Linked DNA regions of Homo sapiens. Each later gene encodes a partner of the first gene's protein in a complex. Each region holds a gene or a part of one and is shown on either strand. Other genes may lie near its edges.

Region 1 (7,951 bases):
TCACTAAGCACAAGACGCAATCGACGAGGTGAATCACTGTGTTCAAACTCTAACGTCAGTCCATGCTGAAGCTGTGATACCAGGATGCTCTCTCCACTGCCTCCTCCAAGTTTATGCCTAATGAAGTACAAAACATGTAACAATTATGAAAACACTGATATGGAAATAATTGCATAAAAATTATCTTTTATTGAAATAAGCTATAAAAGGATGTATAAAGTGTTCTAAAATGTTCTGTTACTTCTGAAATGCTATTTAGTTTGCCTGTGTATTTCAGGGATTCACATCCTACGTATAATAAATACTCCACCACATAGGCCAGGCACAGTGGCTCACGCCGGTAATCCCAGTACTTTGGGAGGCTGAGGCAGGTGGATCACAAGGTTGGGAGTTCGAGACCAGCCTGGCCAATATGGTGAAACCTCGTCTCTACTAATAATACAAAAAAGCCGGGCATGGTGGCGCGTGCCTGTAGTCCCATCTACTCGGGAGACTGAGGCAGAAGAATCACTTGAACCCAGGAGGTGGAGGTTGCAGTGAGCCGAGATCACGCCACCGCACTCCAGCCTGGGCAACAGGGCAAGACTCGGTCTAAAAAAAAATAAAAATAAAAATAAATAAATAAATACTCTACCACAACTGACAATTAACACTCACTTCCACTGATGGTGGCTTGCTACTAGATTCACAATGGGCAGGGAAGGACATAGCACCTGCCCAGAATCTTTGGGAATATCTAAGCTTTAAAAGCCTCCCAAGAGGCTGGGCCCAGTGGCTCACACTTGTAATCCCAGCACTTTGGGAGGCCAAGGCAGGTGGATCACCTGAGGCCAGGAGTTGGAGACCAGCCTGGCCAACATGATGAAACCCCATCTCTACTAAAAATACAAAAAATTAGCCGGGCATGGTGGCAGGTGCCTGTAATCCCAGCTACTCGGGAGGCTGAGGCAGGAGGATCGCTTGAACCTGGGAGGCTGAGGTTGCAGTGAGCCAAGATCACGCCATTGCACTCCAGCCTGGGCAACAAGAGCGAAACTCTGTCTCAAAAAAGAAAAAAAAAAGCCTCCCAAGTGATTCCAATAAATCCCTCTAATCTAGGGGAAGTTACCCTACCTACTTCCCACTGAAAGTAATTGGCCTAATGAGTTTAGCCCACATACAACAGCACATTGCCATATTTCTCTAGATAACATTTTATAACATGGAAGTCAAAAGATTCTGGAACTGTAACTATATACAGAAAAGACCTAAGTAAAATGCTCTCCAGAATTTAGATTCTCATTCTCTCTTTTCTGGAGAGCTCTAAAAAATATCTGATTCCCTGTTCTTTGTCAAATCCAAATCCACATATAATATAACATAACATTACCTAAGCTGCTGTTCTTTGCTGGCATCTTGTTCTAAAGCATGAAAGTCCACGGACAACAATGCAACAATGGAGTTGACAGCTTCCACTCCAGAAAGAAGGCGAAGGATGAGTTTCTTATCCTGAGCCCAGCTTTGGCTCTGGTCAGCAGGTGCACAAAGTGCCATCCGTACCAAACAGGGCAGAAGAAGTCTTAATTCTGGATCACTTAAAGATGCCAGGCAAACAACATCCACCTTCTGCATTGCCTCAAAAGCAAAAGGGCTGACAAACTGAAGACTTGTACATTCAGTCATTATTACTGTTTGTTGATCCTAATGGTAAAAATACAAATGAAAGTAGGAGTTTAACTTTCACATGTATGAACACCCAACTTTCTAAAAACCCTGAAAAATGTGGTGTATCTTTAATAGGTCCCTATGTTGGCAATGTTCCTGGCACAATCAAGACAAGGCTTCTCTGTCTCCCTAGGTTTATACTGTCACCTGGGAAATGGGAAAGAAAACAGAGTATATTAATGTCTCTTCCAGCCTCAGGAATCTTCTGCTCTAATACTCATATTTTACAAAGAAGGAATATGAAGCCCAGAGAGATGAAGTAACACGCCCAAAATAGTATTACTAGTTAGAGGCACAATCCAAGGCTGAATCCTCATCTACTAAAATCCCAGTCCAAGACTTTCTCCACTATATCAGTCACATGAGCTCCACAAAATGTAAACAAAAGTGAATGGTCATAGTTAAGTGCTTTCTTTCATACCCCGATAGTTTCACATGCCTACCCCGATATACATCAAGAACTATTGGGCTTCTCTTTCTCACCCTCCATGAGTCGGTGGAAAAACTAGCAAATCACTGGGCAGAACCAATGCCAGATTCAAGGCTCTGGAGGCCACAACACTATCCTATGTCCCCTGTGTTACCGGGTAAAAAGCAGATGTGTGGGTGCTATGTGAGAAAGACGCGTCTCATTAGCGCACTTCTCTGTCTCCAGGAATCATCCAAGGCACAAAAAGTAAACAAAAAGGCAGTGAGCTGGCAGCCAAAGCAGTCCCCTCTCAAGGCCGACCGACTAGCAGCAGCGTGGGTAAAAGTCGTGGGTAAAAACTGCTTTGCTTTCAGGGAGGGGCTGCTCTTTTAACAGAGGGGCGGGCTGACTGGAGCAGAGGAGCCAAGACCTGCGTGCTCCTCCGTCTCGCCCCGGGCGCAACTAGAACCAATAAGTCCCTCAGGCTGAGCAAAGTCTGGCCAGGCTCCGACACGGACCTAGGAACGCGCTGAGGCCAGAGAAGCGGACGCTTCATACCTTAAGATCTACCCTCCAGCCTCACGGAACCGCACACGGACTCCGCGTCCTAGAGGCGGGACGCGGCAGAAATCGAGAGCGCGGTCCGATGTTGGGCCTAGGCGATATCCGGAACCCCAAACCCTAGTTGTGCCTCGAGTCGACTCGGACACCAAGAACTCAGACGCCGGGACCAACCGGGTTGTCGATACAAAGTGGGAAGGATGGGGGCACCACACAAAGGCAGAACCGGGACTGTAGGAACGGAAAAGCGGGAGACTTTTTCAACCTGCACCCAGCACCTTCATTCATCCCCAGCGTCTGACTCCCGTCGGCCACCGTACTGGTCTGAGAGGAAGGGTGGCTGCGAGAGGAAAGGCAGAGACGTCGGCGCCAATGCAACTGTGCGCGTGCGCGGCCCCGCCCCTTTCTCCACTTTATTTGCCCTGCCCTACTTGTTCGCCAAAAATTTAGAAATGTGATTCTGGTAGGCTCTGATTTCCAGAGCCTACCAGCTCCTTCCTTTTAGACAAGCAAGCCACTGAGCCCCTCAGAACTTAAATTTCATCATCACAGGATTGCCATGGCATTCAAATGGCATAACGTGTGTTAAAATCGTTCCCACTATTCTTTGACACTAGTGGTACCAAACTGTACTCTTTAAATCTTTGCCTGTGCCTTCCCAGAACCAAAATTCTAGAATCCCAGGATTTGTGGGAGAATTTTAAAAGTGATCTAACCCCAAACTTTCTTCCGCTCTTGACCTCACACCTCCGCTGTCAGAAGTTAAACACCTTCCTTTCAGGTTCTTAACTTGGGGGACCCATAGAACCTTAGAGAGGCAATGCACGGGGATTCAGGAATTCTCTGGAATCCGTTCAGAACTGAGTGCTCGGCACTTCTTCTGGGAAGAGGGTCCAAAACTTTCAACAACTTCTCAAAGGAAGTCTGATCACTCAGAAAAGAACCACTAGTCTATATATGAAGAACCGCTAGTCCATATGTCTTCATACTATTTATTGTTCCTAGTTCGATCAACGTTTATTTGGCAACTTCTATTTACCAGATATTGTGCTAGGAGCTGGAAATAAAAATATTTTACAAAGATATAGCACTTTATAACCTCTTTAAAAATAAAGTCAGAGCCGGGCGTGGTGTCTCATGCCTGTAATCCCAGCGCTTTGGGAAGCCGAGGCGGGCGGATCACCTGAGGTCAGGAGTTCGAGACCAGCCTGACGCAACATGACTAAACCCCAACTCTACAAAAAATATAAAAATTAGGCCGAGCACGATGGCTCATGCCTGTAATCCTAGCACTTTGGGAGGCCGAGGCAGGCAGATCACGAGGCCAGGAGTTCGAGACCAGCCTGACCAACATGGTGAAACTCCGCCTCTACTAAAAATGCAAAAATTAGCCAGGCGTGGTGGTGTGCGCCTGTAATCTCAGCTACTTGGGAGGCTGAGGCGGGAGCATTGCTTGAACCTGGGAGGCGGAGGTTGTGGTGAGCTGAGATCGTGCCATTGCACTCCAGCCTAGGCAATAAGAGCGAAACTCCGTCTCAAAAAAAAAAAAAAAAAAAAAAAATTACCCCAGCGTGGTGATGGAGCACCTGTAGTCCCAGCTACTTCGGAGGCTGAGACAGGAAAATCACTTGAACCTAGGAGGCAGATGTTTCAGTGAGCAGAGATCATGCCACCGCACTCCAGCCTGGGCAACAGAGCCAGACTCCATCTCAAAAATATATATATATATATGACTTTCAACATAGATCAGCAAAGGAAGAAAAGAATTGTGTGTTGCAATGCTTCTGAAAATTTTTTCCACCTGACCCACAATAATACATTTCACATTGTGACCCAGAAAAAACATATGTATATATCCACATACAAAAATAAGTGTAAGTGTATAAATTTATATGCTATATAAACATATAAATATATAACATATAAACCCACATTTACATGGAAACAAATATTTCGTATAATAACACACACACTACATGTTTCTACTTCTCTTTAAAAAACTGCTGGTCACTGCACACTAAAACTGATTTCACACTCTATTAATGGGTTGCACACTGTACTGTCCTAGCATTTTTAAGCTAATATTTGGGATTTATTTATTGAACACTTGCTAGGCACTGTAATAAATGCTTTATATATATTATCTGATTCAATCTTGTGACGTAGGTAATATTCGCCTTTTGCAATTGTGGAAACTGAGAGAGGGTAAGCAATTTCATCTCCATGGATGGTCATTTCACAGGAAAAGTGTGAAGGCAGTGCAAACATTGGTTTGAGGGACGAATGAGAGGAAGATGTGGGTATGAACTAAGTGATTTTAAAGATCCTTTCCAACTCTAATTATGATCCTCTGTTCACTAATGGAGAAACATCATGCAGATTCAGTATCTCCATCTTGATCTATGGAGAAACAGAAAAATCACTGAATGAGATGGCTGCAGTGTCACATAATGAGTGCTGACACTTCCTCCAAGTCCCCCTCTCCTTTTCTTCCAGTTCACCAACTTGACCTTGAGTTGCTCAAGCCAGAAACCTAAAAGTCATCCTAGACTCTAATCTCTCCCCCTTGTATTAATTTAGCAAAAATCTTTATAATCATTGAAACATTGTAATGTTTGCCAATAAAACTTTTTTTTTTTTGAGACAGAGTCTCGTTCTGTTGCCCAAGCTGGAGTGCAGTGGCACGATCTCGGCTCACTACAACCTCTGCCTCCCAAGCTGAAGCAATCCTCCCACCTCAGCCTCCTGAGTAGCTGGGACAATAGGTGTGCACCACCACACTTGGCTAATTTTTTTTTTTTTTTTTTTGAGACAGAGTCTCGCTGTGTCACCCAGGCTGGAGTGCAGTGGTGCGATCTTGGCTCACTGCAACCTCCGCCTCCCAGGGTCAAGCGATTCTCCTGCCTCAGCCTCCTGAGTAGGTGGGATTACAGGTGCCTGCCACCATGCCTGGCTAATTTTTTGTATTTTTAGTAGAGACAGGGTTTCACCATGTTGGCCAGGCTGGTCTCAAACTCCTGACCTCAGCTGATCCACCCACCTTGGCCTCCCAAAATGCTGGGATTTCAGGCATGAGTCCCTGTACCCAGCCTCTCTTTTTTTTTCCTTTTCGACACAAGTTCTCAAGAAAAGAGCGGCAGTGCAGTTGGGCGATCTTGGCTCACTACAACCTCAACCTCCTGGGCTCAGGTGATCCTCCCACTTCAGCCTCCCAAGTAACTGAGACTATGGTCATGCATCACCACACCTGGCTAATTTTTCTATTTTTTTGTAGAGACAGGGTTTCATTATGTGGCCAGGCTGGTCTTGAACTCCTGGACTCAAGCCATCTGTCCCCCCTCAGTCCACCAAAGTGCTAGGATTACAGGTGCAAGCCACTGCACCTGGCTTGACCAGCTTGCTTTTATTCTTCTACTTTATTTTTCAATCAGACTGGAGGAAGAGAGAAACACAAGTAATGAAAAAATGAGAAAAACAGAAAAACACATTAGAATATCTATTATGTTTCATGTATACTAGGTGCTTAATGTAGGTTGCAGAGTAATTGAGCTTCCAGCAGTTAGAAGACCTAACTATACAAAGGTGAGGACCAATGTCCTTCAGAAATAGTCATAGAATTCCAGAAGCACAAGGATCTCAGAAGACATCTAGCTCCATTTTGCTCAACATGATGCTCTTTATAGTGTGACTATTTTATCTTGTAAGATGTCTTTCAGGAGGGCACGATGGCTCATGCCTGTAATCCCAGCACTTTGGGAGGCCGAGGCGGGTGGATCACGAGGTCAGGAGTTCTAGACCAGCCTGGCCAATATGATGAAACCCTGTCTCTACTAAAAATACAAAAATTAGTTGGGTGTGGTGGTGTGCACCTGTAGTCCCAGCTGCTTGGGAGGCTGAGGCAGGAGAATCGCTTGAACCCGAGAGGTGGAGGTTGCATTGAGCCGAGATTGCGCCACTGCACTCTAGCCTGGGCAACAGAGTGAGACTCCATCTCAAAAAATATATATATTCTTTCATGTTTCAGCCTGTAAAGATCTTTGACTCTTTTACACTGGCTATCTGTTTTAGCTTAGCAGATCATATCTTCATTAATATTATGGATAAAACATTGAATAGAATTGGGTCCAGCCAAGACTTCTAGTTCAGCATTAGAGACATCCCTCCAGGTTGACATAGCTCCACCAATCAAGGCTCAAGTATGAGACTGTTTTATAAATCAGCCCAACTACTAAAACACTACCCTGCTTTGGGATAAAGTTGAATTTCTTTAGGATGGAACTAAAAAGACAGATTGATTGATTATATTTTTTTGAGACAGAGTCTCGCTCTGTCACCCTGGATGGAGTGCAGTGGCTCAATCTTGGCTCACTGCAACCTCCGCCTCCCAGGTTCAAGCAATTCTCCTGCCTCAACCTCCCAAGTAGCTGGGATTACAGGCACCTGCCACCATGCCCAACTAAATTTTTGTGTATTTTTAGGAGAGACGGGGTTTCACCATGTTGGCCGGGCTTGTGTCAGTCTCCTGACCTCAAGTGATCTGCACGGCTTGGCCTCCCAAAGTGCTGAGATTACAGGCGTGAGCCACTGTGCCAAGCCCTAAGACAGATTTTTTTTTTTTGAGGTGGAGTCTCAGTCTGTCGCCCAGGTTGGAGTGCAGTGGCACAATCTCAGCTCATTGCAACCTCTGCCTCTTGGGTTCAAGCGATTCTCCTGCCTCAGCCTCCTGCGTAACTGGGATTACAGGCACCCACCACCATGCCTGGCTAAATTTTTTGGGGTATTTTCAGTAGAGATGGGTTTTCACCATGTTGACCAGGCTGGTCTCAAACTCTTGACCTCAGGTGATTTGCCCACCTCAGCCTCCCAAAGTGCTGAGATTACAGGCTTGAGCCACTGCGCCCAACCCAAAAACAGATTTTTATGGTCTGACTTAAAACTCTAGCTTGGAGTCCTGCCGTATCCCACCATGGTGTCATTTTAGTCAGTTGGAACTGTTTATGTCTCAAATCCTTCTCAATATTCTTGGACCTTCTCATCACAGTTCCTCCTGTCTAGAATGCTTTTCATTCTCTTTTTTAATGCAAACTCCTAAGTGTCCTTTAAGTCTCACCTCCAGTGTTCCCTTGCTAAGAGACCTTTCCCTGACAAACCACCTACCCTTTAACTTATCAGGTATCCCTATTCTATGCTCTCAAGGCACCTTTTGCTTCTTTCAGCTATACTACTTAACACATTATATTGTAATTGTTAGAACTTCTCTGTCTCTCCCACTAAAAA
Region 2 (7,858 bases), on another chromosome or scaffold:
CTGGAGTGCAATGGTGCGATCTTGGCTCGCTGCAGCCTCCATCTCTCAGGTTCAAGTGATTCTCGTGCCTCAGCCTCCGGAGTAGCTGGGACTACAGGCACCTGCCACCACGCCCGGCTATTTTTTTGTATTTTTAGTAGAGATGGGGTTTCACTGTGTTATCCAGGATGGTCTCGATCTCCTGACCTCGTGATCCGCCCGCCTCAGCCTCCCAAAGTGCTGGGATTACAGGTGTGAGCCACTGCGCCCGGCCTTGGATAATTTTTTTCTATTTTTAGTAAAGGCAAGGTTTCGCCATGTTGGCCAGGCTGGTCTCGAACTCCTGACCTCAAGCAATCCGCCCGCCTCAACCTCCCCAAGTGCTGGGATGACAGGCGTGAGCCACCGCACAGGCCTAATGAAGGTAAAGATCTTGAGATGAGATCATCCTTGATCTGGGTGGGCCCTAAATCCCTTAACAGATGTCCTCACGAGGCACAGAGACACAGAGAGAAGACGGCCACATGGAGTCAGAGGCAGAGGCTGGAGGGATGTGGCCACGAGCCGAGGACCCCTGGAGTCCCCAGGAGCTGGTCGAGGTAGGCAGCGTCCTCCCCTAGAGCCCTCCGAGGGAGTCAGCCCTGCCCACACTTTGACTTCAGACTTCTGGGCTCCAGAACTGCAAGAGAGGACATTTCTGTGGCTTTAAGCCACCGAGTCTGTGGTGCTTTGTTAAGAGCTGCTGTGGGAAACAACCACAGGTGTTCATTTTACTGTTCGGGTGATAAGCAGAGTCTTTGGAGAATTCTGAGCAGGGGAGGAACATTTGATTATATCTTTTTGTTTTTTTGTTTTTTTTGAGATGGAATCTCGCTCTGTTGGCCAGACTGGAGTGCAGTGGTACGATCTTGGCTCACTGCCACCTCCACCTCCTGGGTTCAAGTGATTCTCCTGCCTCAGCCTCCCAAGTAGCTGGGACTAAAGGCACCCGCCACCACGCCTGGCTAATTTTTGTATTTTTAGTAGACATGGGGTTTACTATGTTGGCCAAGCTGGTCTCAAACTCCTGATCTCAGGTGATCCGCCTGCCTCAGCCTCCCAAAGTGCTGGGATTAAAAGCCACGGCACCCGGCCTAAAAATTAAATTTCTAATAATTTTTTTTTTTTTGAGACAGAGTCTCACTCTTGTCGCCCAGGCTGGAGGGCAATGGCATGATCTTGGTTCACTGCAACCTCCGCCTCCCACGTTCAAGTGATTCTCCTGCCTCAGCCTCCCAAGTAGCTGGATTACAGGTGTCTGCTACCATGCCCGGCTAATTTTTGTATTTTTGTAGAGACCGGGTTCCACCATGTTGGGCAGGCTGGTCTTGAACTCCTGACCTCAGGTGATCCACCCGCCTCGGCTTCCCAAAGTGCTGGGATTACAGGCGTGAGCCATCGCGCCTGGCCATAAAAAATATTTTCAAAAAGTGAGCAAACAATTTGAACAGACACCAATAATGCAGATACACGGATGACAAAAAAAGATGAGAAAACGCTCATCATTACTCATCAGGGAGACGCCGATGAAGAGCACAGGGCAGACCCTGCACACCCCCCCAGGATGACGGAACGCCTGTGGTCCTGCCCGGGCCATCAGTGGAGAAGCCATCCTTGGAATCTGGAATCCATCTGGCGGGTGCTACTCAGCAGCTGACAGAAGCCACCGATGCCTGCAACGCTGGGGTAAGTCTCAGAATAATGATGCCAGGCCGGGCGCGGTGGCTCACGCCTGTAATCCCAGCACTTTGGGAAGCCGAGGCGGGAGGATCACGAGGTCAGGAGATCAAGACCGTTGTGGCTAACACGGTGAAATCCCGCCTCTACTAAAAATACAAAAAAAAAAAAAAATTAGCCGGGCGTGGTGGCCAGCGCCTGTAGTCCCAGCTACTCGGGAGGCTGAGGCAGGAGAATGGCGTGAACCCAGGAGGCAGAGGTTGCAGTGAACGGAGATCGCGCCACTGCACTCCAGCCTGGGTGACAGAACGAGATTCCATCTCAAAAAAAAAAAAAGAATAATGACGCCGAGCAGCTGGCCAGGGAGCGTGCACTGTGTGCTTTCATTCACACAGACTCCAGAAGAGCAAACAGCGCCTCTCCAGGGACAGAAAGTGGCGCCCTGGCGGCCTGGGGACAAGTCAGGGGTGGTTTGGGAATGTTCGTTACAGGGTTGAAAGGGATGGGGGATGGGGCCACAGGTACGTGTGAATGTCAACACGCATCAGTGTGCACCCTTTACACCCTTTACACACCTGCAGTTTATCAGACGTCAATCATAACTCAAAAAAGCTGTTTTCAAAAAGAGGCGGGGAGAGGGAGGAGGAAGGCAAAGAGGTAGAGGAGGGGGAGGAAGAGGAAGAGGGGAAGGAGACGGAGGAGAAAGAGAAGAGGGAGGAGGAGGTGGTCAAGGTTGACTCCTGAGTTTTTAGAGAACGAGGAAGACGAGGAGCAGGAGGAGAGAGAAGGGGGAAGAGGTGGTCAAGGTTGACAGGAGGAGGAGGAGGAGGAGGAGGAGGAGGGGGAGGAGGGGAGGAGGGGGAGGAGGAGAAGAAGGGGAACGAAGGGGAGGGGGGAGGGGGAGGAGGGGGAGGGGAAGGAGGGGAGGGGGAGGGGGAGGAGGAGAGGAGGGGGGAGGGGGAGGAGGGGGAGAAGAAGGAAGGGGAGGAGGGGGAGGAGGAGGGGGAGGGGGAGGGGGAGGGGGAGGAGGAGGTAGTTGTTCTCAAGGTCGACCCTGAGGTTCTGGCCTGGGCCCGGGTGAGGGCATTTGCCGAAGGCACAGGCCCCGCATGCAGGGGCGGTGATGCTGGTCAGAGGATGAGGAGAGGCAGGTGGCGGGGCAGAGGAAGCTCTGTGCAGGGTGCTCCCATTCAGGTGACAGGAGGAGGAAGCATTACCCCATCGGATCTCCCCTCCCCTTAGAGAGTTACCCTGAGGGACAGATTGAGAAACTGTAGAGGGATGAAGCCGCACAGCCCCCGCCTGGCGTCCGGCAGGGATCCGCGCCTGACCGGCCTCTCCTCCCATGGGCACCACGGACGTCTCCTTCCGGACTCGCTGCCCACACAGCGCAGGGTGCAGGGCCCTGGAGCCCTTGGGGTCCTGCGGGGACCCAGCTGGTGCCCACAGGAGTGGAAAGAGACCGTGGCGGGTCACACAGCAGTTCTCAGGCTGCAGCCTGGGGCCATGAGCCTCACTGAGGCCACAGTCAAATGGCCACACCCAACTTCAGGGGCACAGGGAGACCAGCTCTGCCTTGCGGTCCCTGGATGAGGAGATGGGACACACCGGGCAGGCGGTGCTCAGGACTCCCTCGGTGGCGGGGCAGCGTTCGAGTCAGTGCCCTGCTGGGAACAGATCTCCAAGATGTGGTTAAGTGGCAAAAGCCAGGTGCAGAAAAGAGGAGCCGTGCGCTACCTGCAGGGTGACAAGGCAGAGGGAGGCACACGGGTGGCTGCCTGAACGCACACGGAAAAGCCGGGAACACAGGCACAAATCAGAACACAGGCTGACTCCAGGGGAGGGGACCAGCTGCTCAGGGGTCAGGGGAGACCTTCGACCCTTTGACTGGATGATTCCCCCACCTTTTATTTTTATTTTTTTTTAGACAGGGTCTCGCTCTGTCGGCCGGCTGCAGCGTAGTGGCACCATCATAGCTTACTGCAGCCTTGACCTCCCAAGCTGAAGAGATCCTCCTACCTCAGCCTCCTCAGTAGCTGGGACCGTAGGCATGCACCACCATGCCTGGCTAATTTATTCTTGATTTTTGTTTGTAGAGATAGGGTCTCACTATGTTGCCCAGGCTGGTCTCAGACTCCCACTTTGGCCTCCCAAAGGGCTGGGATTAGAGGTTCATGCCACCATGCCCAGCTAATTTTTATTTTTTTGTAGAGATGGGGGTCTTGCTATGTTGCTCAGGCTGGTCTCGAACTCAACCGATCCTCCTGCCTTGGTCTCCCAAAGTGCTGAGATTACAGGCATGAGCATCACACCTGGCAACTGTATGATCTTTTGTGTCTTTTGAGTTTTGTTCCCATCAGTGTTTCCATTAAAAAAAAAAAAAAAAAGGCGTGGGGGCGGGGCGGGCGCAGTAATTCCAGCACTTTGGGAGGCCAAGGCGGGCGGACCACCTGAGGTCAGGAGTTCGAGACCAGCCTGGCCAACATGGTGAAACCCCGTCTCTACTAAAAACACAAAAAAATTAGCCAGACATGGTGGCGGGCGCCTGTAATCCCAGCTACTCGGGAGACTGAGGCAGGAGAATCGCTTGAACCTGGGAGGTGGAGGTTGCAATAAGCCGAGGTCGCGCCACTGCATTCCAGCCTGGGCGACAGAGCGAGACTCCGTGCCAAAAAAAAAAAGAAAAAAGAAAAGGGTGAACTTTGTGGAACACGAGTTCTATCTCAATAAAGCTATTATTATTATTATTATTATTATTTGAGACAGGGTCTCTCCCCGGGAGCCCCCCGGGCTGCGCCCCCTCGCCAGTGCCTGCGCCCCGGCCGCCCCCGCTCTCCGGGACGTGCAGAACCTGCCACTTGACTCATCCGCGGATCCCTGACGCCACTCCTCCCCGCCGTGCGTCCTGGAGTGCGTCCCTTCGCAACGCCAGCACCACCTGTGAATGGAGAGGCCAGCGCCTGCCCCGCGCCGCCGACCCACCTGGACCGGACCACATGCGCGCGGCGCCGGCCAGCCCGCCTCCCGCCGCCATGGGGCGCTGCAGGCATCAGGCCGGCGCCGCGGGCCTCTCGCGCCTCCTTCTGGGCCCGCTTCCCGCCGCACTGTTTTCCTTCCGGTTGTTCCGGAAGTCGGGTCCTCGAGGGCGGTGAGATCGGTTTCCGATTCCGGGGTGGCCGGGTGGCGGCGGCGGCGCTCCGGTCGCGATGGGCCAGAGGTAAGTGAGCCGCGGCCTGGGCGCTTCCTCATTGCCGGGCGAGCGCCTGGTTCTCCCGGCTACCGCTCCCGGCCTCTGGGCCGTCCCTTCTGGTTCTGCCGCCTCCAGCCCGGCGTCCGCGTCGCCTGCTGCCGCCCGACTGAGCCGCTCCCGGGCGGCTGGGAGGCGGGGTCCCTGCAGCTCCTGCAGCATCGCCCCGCCGGGCGGGCGCGGGACCACTGTCCCCGGGTCCCAGGCCCAAGCCCCGTGCGGCAAGGGAGCGAATGAGCGAGCGAACGAGCGAATGAGTGAAGGAATGACCGCACGCTGGCTCCTCCGCAGGTGACGCCGCAGCCGCCGGGAGCCGCGAGGGACGGGGCAGGATGAACCGGGCCAAGCCCACCACGGTGCGCCGGCCCAGCGCCGCGGCCAAACCCTCAGGTGCGTCTCCCTCCTCGCTCTGCAGCCCGGGGGTCTTTGGGGGTCTTTGGGGGTCTTTGGGGATCTCAGCTGCCGCGGATCCTGCGTTGGGCTTGGTTGTTCCGCAGCCGCGGCTGTTTCCAGGAATTCGGTCTGGAAACACTGCTCTCGGTCCTCAGCGGCTCTGAGAGTCCCTGGGAGGCTTGGGACAGTGGCGACTTCCTTCGGGACCCCGGTGATCTCGTTTCAGGCTGAGCTGCAAGGCGGCCGACAGTAGCGGAAGGTCTCCCCAGCCAGGAGGCGGGAGGCAGCACAGTGTAGCGTAGCACGGGGTCTGCGGCTGAACTGTCGGCTCAGATCCTCCGGACTTTGCCACTCGCCTGCTGTGTGACGCTGGGCACGTCGCTTAACCTCTCTGTGTCCCTTTCTCTCTTGTAAAGTTAGAGTAATAGCACCTATTGCGGAAACTCGGGGCGGGGGTTACTAAGCACACTAATTTGGATAGACCAGAGATGGCCTGGTTTGTGGTTAGCGCTACGTGACTGTCCACCATCACCTGTGCGTATCCTGCTGGTCCCAGCTCTGCTGTAGGCTGCTGAGTGAGCTCTGGCTTCTTCCTTGCCTCCTCTGACCCTTGTTTAATCCCCTCTGACATAACAGGAGGTTAGAGTCAGTCTTTTTCCATCTTGGGTGTTGCAAATGTGCCCGGTTTTCTCTCTCCTTTCTCTGCAGGGCACCCTCCCCCAGGAGACTTCATTGCTCTGGGCTCAAAGGGTCAGGCCAATGAATCGAAAACGGCGTCCACCCTGCTGAAGCCAGCCCCTTCCGGCCTGCCTTCTGAGCGCAAGCGGGATGCGGCGGCCGCGTTGTCCAGTGCCTCGGCCCTCACCGGTCTCACCAAACGCCCCAAACTCTCCTCCACACCCCCTCTGAGTGCCCTGGGGCGCCTGGCTGAGGCTGCAGTGGCAGAAAAACGAGCCATTTCTCCGTCGATTAAAGAGCCATCTGTGGTGCCAATTGAAGGTAATGAGTCTGTGGACATCCCCCGAGAACACCCCTCAGCTCATGCCGTCCATCAGGTGTTCAGGGAAGGCCCCCTCCAGGCCTAGTGCTGCCCGTATGGCCGAGGTCCTTTGGGAGAGCGGATGTTTGTGGCTTGTTCTTGGAAGTGCTTCTCACGTAGATGCCCTTATCCCGTGTGTGCATCTGCGTCCTGCACTGCCAGTGGCTGCCCTTTGAGAACCGGGTCACTCCCTTATTGAGTTGTTTGTCTCATGTGTCTGTTGGACGCCCCCTTTGTGACGGGCACTGTCTGAGCCCTGGGGGTAAACCGGGCGTGACGACACCCCAGGTGTCTGTTCTCAAGGTTGCCCATCCTGGTGCGTTCCTCTCTCAACCTGAGCGGAGGCGATGTGTACTTGGTTCCTCCTTCCCTCCTGGTTACCAACAGAGAAGAGTTGATCCCCTCCCTGTTTTCAGTTGAAAAGCAGCAGAACAGTAAGGACATCAACGGGGGAATGTAAGCTTCACCACTGTCCCGTTCTCGCAGAAATGCCTTTAACTGTGTGCCTAGAATCGCCCCTGCCCCTCTGCGCCATTTTCCCAACGACCATTTCTCAAGGCTCCGTGACTCCCTGGGAGTCGCTCTGGCAGCTATCGCACCAGCCCCAGCAAGCCTCATGGTCTGCAGTGTTTTGTTTCTGTGGGAGCATCTCTTTTGGGTAATTTCTTTGTAGGAGTCAAAAAGAACAAGTGTCCTGATGACTTTGGTAGTGAGGTGTCTGTTCAAGCCGCGCCACCTCTGGTTACTGAGTTTTGTGCCAGACAGGACCCAGGGGACTTGTGGGCTGTGGCCTTGCCCTCAGGGAGGGACCAGGCTGCTGCAGTGCAAGCCTGTGAGTGAGTCCCCGACGGCCCTGGAAGGGAGGAGGCCTGGCAGGGAGTTGCAGTATGGGCTTGGGCCTGGAAGCACAGGCGATGAAACCGGGGCAGGCAGGAAAGGGAGATGCCAAGCAGAGAATGGACTGTGCCCAGGGAATGGAGGCCTGGCCTGGCCTGGGCAGCACACGCTCATGAGAGCTGAGGCTGGGCGCTGTGGGCAGTGTTTGTGCTGGACTCAGTTGGCATCAGGGAGCCCTGGGGGCAAACGGCCCAGGATGGCACAGCTGGGGGACTGCTTTAGGAGGTCGAGCCTCAGACCTCCCATGAGGCGTGTCCCTGGGCAGCTGGTGCCGGTGGGGATTGAAGACAGAGACCACAGGCCTCATCCTGGCCCGGGCTCTCGGCCGCCGGCGGCTCGGTGCTTTATTTATCTTTAGCACTACCTCCTGTAGAAAGGAGGTTTTGAAGATGAGAGGAGACGTGGTTATGAAAAGCGTATTCTGAGTGGTAGATCACTTTATAGTATTATTCTCAGCAAAACAGAGAGATGGCTGCATCCAGCCATTTGTGGTAAATGTCCCAGGCTGTCCCTCCATGCTGGCAGCCCACTTGTCCCCCAGCTTGTCTCGGCATCAGGAAATTTATTCCAAGTCTCTGTCCCGGGCG
Region 3 (4,981 bases), on another chromosome or scaffold:
AAGTTTGGTAACATATTGAGTCTTAAGAATTTTCCAAACAGCTACCTGAGCCTCCAGTAAAAACAAAAACAGAATTTTCCACTCTTTCCCTAGCTACACAGTAAGCAGCATTGGATACTATAAATTTTGTAAGTACATTTTTAAAGAATGTGTTCTAAATGTGTTAGAAAAATGTTAATGAGCAACTCACATTTTTATCATTTTCTGTGGTTAGGCCAAGATGGCTTTTATGTTTCTGAAGCAATCCACAAGGCCAAGATTGAAGTTTTGGAGGAAGGCACCAAGGCATCTGGAGCCACAGGTATGTTCAGAGAATACCCAGTCACACTGCTTACCCATATCTACCTTTCTGAAATTTACCTAGTTGAATCTTCACACTTCTGAATCTTTCCATAACCCCCAAGTTCAGGTGTGGTGTAGTATTTTTTAAAAAGGAACACTAAAGAAAACAAAAAGTTTTTGAAAAATGACGGGGAAGAAGAGATATCCATCCCATAAAAATAATTCTGAAAGTTACCTTCAATAAGGAATTTATTCCATGGAATGTGTTGAAAACAGGAGACAGGATTGGCTAAATGGCATCTTTTCTCTTTAATTTTCCCATCTGCACCCCCATCACAACAGTAAACAATCAAATGCCATTAGGATGCTTTGATTTCTTAAAAAATTAACTTACTTCATAACCAATAGTTATTTTCTTAAAAATGCACAGAAAATGCAATGGAATTTTTCTTTCTTTCCTGCAGCTCTGTTGTTATTGAAAAGGTCTCGGATTCCTATTTTTAAAGCAGATCGGCCATTCATCTATTTCCTGAGAGAACCTAACACAGGTATTACAGTATTTTTTGACAGGATTCAGATAATTTATCAGTGTCTCTCTAGCAACAAGGGCTCATTTGTCCACTATCCCCTCAAAAATAAGCATTCTTTCTAGCTGTTTTTATGGTGCTTCAGAAGCTACCCAGTTGCTATCTTCTATCCTAAGAAAGGGGACTATTTCGTAAGTACAAAGGAAACTTATCCTCCATGTTTTTTACCTTCTCATTCTCTCAGCTCATATATAGTTAATGTAGATTTTTTTTTTTAATGCTATAGGTTTCTACTTCTGAAGACACTTGGAAAAATCATGAAAGTAAAATAAATTATAAATCTTGCCCTTTTTTCCCTTTGTCCCCTAGCTTTCTTATCATTTTAGAGTTTTTTCAGGTCACTAGAGTACACCAGAGTAGTCCTCTTGTGATCCTAGTATTCTAATGAATGCACCTGGATTTCTATACTGTTCTGTTGATCTTTCTCAAAAATCAAATGTTTGCCCTAGTACTTTTAAGTCCTACTACATAACCTTATGGTAATCCAAAGATGGTGTGGTACCGGCAAAGCCTCAGTACATCAGAAGGACACACAAATATTCTTAGGCTTCGACAATATTGAACAAAGTCTTTAGATTATTTCTCTTAATGTTCTTCCTCCCCCACTCACAATTACTTAGCCTAGGAAGGAAAAGAGATTCTCAGTTAAGAGTTGTTGGCAAGTCTAAACAGTGTATTAAAAAGAAATAGGATAGAACAAGACTAATAAAATCAAGCAAAGGTGGATCTACTTTAACTAAACATCAGGCATTACTTTTATTTATGGAGAAAAATGTCAAAAGTTAGAATGAAAATTATGCATAGTTTTACATAAATTGTTAAGGAAATACTGTCAACATCATTTTATCTGAGAATCATTTGCATCCTGCTGTACCTTGTGCTAGAAATCAAAGGAACATTTTTGTGACGAGAAAGATATAAACCATTCACTAGAAAATAATCTATTTGGGATTATTTGGAGAGAAAAAGTCCATCAACAGAGTATGTCTTCCTAGTATTTCACCATGATCATCCCAACCACATAACGATTAGATGAAAATATCACTTATCACCCAGAACAGGCGGCAGAGAGCCTTCTCTTAGAAAGGACACGTCAAAAAAATGAAAGATGAGAAAAAGGACAGGTTCTACTCCCTAAGGAAACAAAGAGACAGGACTACATTTGAACAGAAAGGTCATTGCCAAAAGCCAATAGCCAATAAAGGTTGATAGGTAAAAGAGAGATTCTGATTTTGGAATTCAAGTGCATAAAAATGATGTAAAATCCTTAAACAAGGAAAAGACACACCACTATTTCAATGGTAGGAGTTTTCAGAACTGCCTCAGTAATCAGAATGAAAATATAAGGATAATCCAAAACCAGTTCCACAATCCACTGGAATTCTAATAGTCCTTGTGACTTTACCTCTATCTGGGAGGCATTAGCCTACATCACACAACACAGTGGCTGCTCTTCTGGTGATGGTTATGGAAGAGTTTAGAAATGAGTCTCAGCCTTCATTATTTCCAACTGACAAATCTTACTAAGAGCAACTAATGAATCAATCAGCAAATGAGAAACATGGGAGACATTAAAAAAAAAGATTTGAAAACCTCAAGATTAAACTTTCCAAGAATATCATTTGTCGAGCCTTAAGTCATTCAGTGACATAAAGGGCCTAAAAGACATGATGTTTCCCCTAGATGTATTTCCCTTCCCCTTTGACAATAATTCTACAACAAGTATTCTAATTTAACTAATATACCCATTTTTTTTTTAAATGAAAAAAGCCTGAGGGAGATGAGATATTAACCTTTAGTTCTGATAGGTTTCAAACCCTCCTGACCAGGTTTTAGGATGAGGTGAGAACAGTGGCAGAGAGATAAAGGACAAAAAGAAGAGATGAACAAAACTGCTACTTCTCACCTCCCTCCAGGGTTCATTCAGAAAAATGTATTAAAGGTCATGAGCAATCTGTGAAACAGAAAATAAAACTTTCTGATAAGGAAAGCTGCTCAATATTGGGATGGGCTGAATCTCTTTCCTAGATACTCTTGTTAAGTATGAATTTTTATCTGAATGACTTCTAATTCCTCCTAGTAATTCCAGAATCTAAATATATATAATTTAGGAACAGACAATATATTCTGGATTTTGTGTAACTCTCAATGAATTTAGCAATGTGACTACAGGCAATTACCTTAACAATTCCATCTATTAAATGTTATCTTGCATTACTTAAAAGTATTTGTATAGAAGTAAACAAAGCTTAAAGAACTGCATATGAAAATACTATATAATATTAAATTCTTCTTTTTCTTGACAGGGTTTGTCTTCAGTATTGGGAGAGTTTCAAATCCCCTAGACTAAATGCATGTTCTCCACTTTCATCAATGCTTTTCTTCATAAAGTTATAATTTCATTTTGCTATACCCTTGAAATTTAAAAAAATGTCTGATAAAGTGTAAAAAGCTAAGGGTATGTGATTTTCAATATTATAAACCTAAAAATACTTCAGTTTTTAAATGTTATAAGTTTATTTTGCCTACTCTTAATCCAAATCTATTTTGACCTTCTTTTCTACTGCTTACCCCCCAAACCACTAAAAGGCACAGCAGTGATCATGAATGGTGAGTGAGTCAGGCCATAAGATTGCTTCCTCAGTACGGATACTCTAGGCCATGTTGAATTGAGGGTGGAGAATGAATAGCGTGGTTTTCCTTATCCTGTGAAACTCAGGGGGGATGCAAAATGAGCAAAGTCATCTTAAAGGTGTTTCCTTTCCATTTAGCTTATAAATAAAACAGAGTTTAAGTGTGAGAACAGCAGAGCAGAACAAGGAGGCCTCCAATTTGTTGTGGGCTTTTGCAAGCATGGCATGAAGCTGCTAAAGGCTAGATATTTCAGAGCATGTACTGTACTCCAAACCTACCACTCCCTAACAGCTTCAGCTTCGTGCCATCCACAATCCTAGTGATAAAGGAAAAGGTGTTGAAGTAAGGAAACCAATAATATCCAAAGTTGTTTGCTTTTTAAATAGCTTTTAAAGTATCTGTCTATCTGCCCCATACAAAGTCATTCCCATAATCTAGGCAGAAATGGGAGTATGTTGGCATGGCCAACAAAAACTACGAACATATAGTAAAAAGGCAATGCAGATTATGTAACATGTAATTACAGTTAGGCTTAACAAACATGAACTTCAAGTGGTGTATTTTTCCAATGCTAAAAAGCAAGGCCTTTAAAATTCCATTATCTTAGGATGTTTTTAAATGATTACTTTAAATGTGATTATTTCCTAAACCACACAAGAGTAAAATAGAGCATTTATTGATGGAATAACAAAAGTGCTTTTCTTAAATATTCTTCAAAATACATTTGTACAACTTACAATAATATATCCAAAATAACTGTATATACAAAACATTACCTAGTTTTAATGTATGTGCTTTTTTCCCCAAAAATTACAAAGTAACTTCTTTTTTTTTTGGCAAAGTTCAACCTTAACAGAGGTGACAATTTTAAAGGTTGGTTTAAGAAAATAGAACCTGAGGGAAATTGACACGCAAGAGTCAATGACAAGCAAGAGATTTGGAGGAATATTTTTAGTTTGTTAAATTAAAAATGTTTTTTAGAGTGATACTTTTCACATTACAAAAATAAACCAAAATGAAGAAAAGGTCACTGTAAAATGATGGAAAAAGGATCTGTAGATTTGCTTTTAGTATTTCAAATAGCCAACAATGCATGTCAGAAAATGAATGCAAGATCACAACAGTCTTGTATTTACTTTGTATTTGAAGAAGATAGTGAAATAAGTGGCCACATTCTATTTTCTTTTAATTGCTATTAATATGGTTGATCTGATTGGCTCTTCGATGAATTTCATCCAAGAAGTTCTCCAGTTGTTCTATTAGCATTCGTTTTTTAAACCTGTATGAAAAAATAAATAGTACTCTCAATTACTTTTTAATGAATAGTATATATCAGTATAATTTTTTTAAGAAAGGAGAGAAAATTTTGGGAAGATTTTTCAAAGTGAAATGAAAATAGAAAAATCAATACTACGACAATATAAAATATGTTGAAAGATTAGCAAATTATTATCCTAGTACAGTATTATAGTTTGTCC

What was found.
Region 2: the proteins of INTS2 (region 1) and INTS1 are in contact, whole or in part, in a cryo-EM structure (PDB 8RC4), measured with the Homo sapiens proteins. Residues at the interface, in NP_065799.2 of Homo sapiens: Pro40, Leu54, Lys69, Leu72, Arg73, Leu75, Ser76, Gly77, Val78, Glu79, Val81, Asn82, Val85, Gly125, Thr127, Leu128, Glu131, His132, Glu166, Val172, Tyr173, Glu176, Arg322, Gln325, Gln326, Arg329, Gly400, Lys402, Thr769, Met772; in NP_001073922.2 of Homo sapiens: Gly561, Ile562, Ala563, Trp564, Asp565, Lys566, Gly567, Ser982, His1055, Met1056, Thr1058, Pro1060, Glu1095, Arg1096, Thr1098, Ile1099, His1102, Leu1107, Arg1225, Ser1250, Phe1251, Gly1252, Ile1253, Tyr1285, His1288, Glu1291, Val1292, Gln1293, Glu1295, Arg1296.
Region 3: the proteins of INTS2 (region 1) and INTS6 are in contact, whole or in part, in a cryo-EM structure (PDB 8RBZ), measured with the Homo sapiens proteins. Residues at the interface, in NP_065799.2 of Homo sapiens: Ile855, Asp856, Pro857, Leu858, His895, Arg923, Glu925, Leu926, Lys927, Ala929, Leu930, Ala932, Ala933, Gln934, Ser936, Ala937, Gln940, Ile941, Glu944, Asn1010, Lys1013, Leu1014, Phe1017, Gln1018, Gly1019, Tyr1020, Pro1021, Ile1046, Ala1047, Gln1048; in NP_036273.1 of Homo sapiens: Ile484, Val486, Arg487, Ser488, Arg489, Phe527, Gln528, Val529, Ala530, Leu531, Leu532, Asn533, Phe541, Arg542, Asn543, Ala544, Tyr545, Ile547, Arg549, Leu552, Leu553, Leu556, Met559, Arg560, Asn562, Leu563, Leu564, Lys565.

Annotation. Positions count from the first base shown.
Region 1 is NC_000017.11:61,924,983-61,932,933, forward strand, and holds the start of INTS2 (integrator complex subunit 2), read right to left. Parts: upstream 3,001-7,951; 5' UTR 2,959-3,000; coding exon of another isoform or gene 2,953-2,958; 5' UTR 2,672-2,952; intron 1,681-2,671; coding exon of another isoform or gene 1,663-1,680; coding exon 1,370-1,662; intron 118-1,369; coding exon 1-117. UniProt on the Homo sapiens protein: Component of the integrator complex, a multiprotein complex that terminates RNA polymerase II (Pol II) transcription in the promoter-proximal region of genes.
Region 2 is NC_000007.14:1,501,377-1,509,234, reverse strand, and holds the start of INTS1 (integrator complex subunit 1), read left to right. Parts: upstream 1-4,845; 5' UTR 4,846-4,912; intron 4,913-5,233; 5' UTR 5,234-5,274; coding exon 5,275-5,332; intron 5,333-6,043; coding exon 6,044-6,334; intron 6,335-7,858. UniProt on the Homo sapiens protein: Component of the integrator complex, a multiprotein complex that terminates RNA polymerase II (Pol II) transcription in the promoter-proximal region of genes.
Region 3 is NC_000013.11:51,361,064-51,366,044, forward strand, and holds the end of INTS6 (integrator complex subunit 6), read right to left. Parts: intron 4,783-4,981; coding exon 4,689-4,782; 3' UTR 3,220-4,688; coding exon of another isoform or gene 3,176-3,219; 3' UTR 935-3,175; coding exon of another isoform or gene 747-934; 3' UTR 514-746; downstream 1-513. Other genes in the region: SERPINE3 (serpin E3 isoform 2 precursor), read left to right, coding at 215-301, 747-934. UniProt on the Homo sapiens protein: Component of the integrator complex, a multiprotein complex that terminates RNA polymerase II (Pol II) transcription in the promoter-proximal region of genes.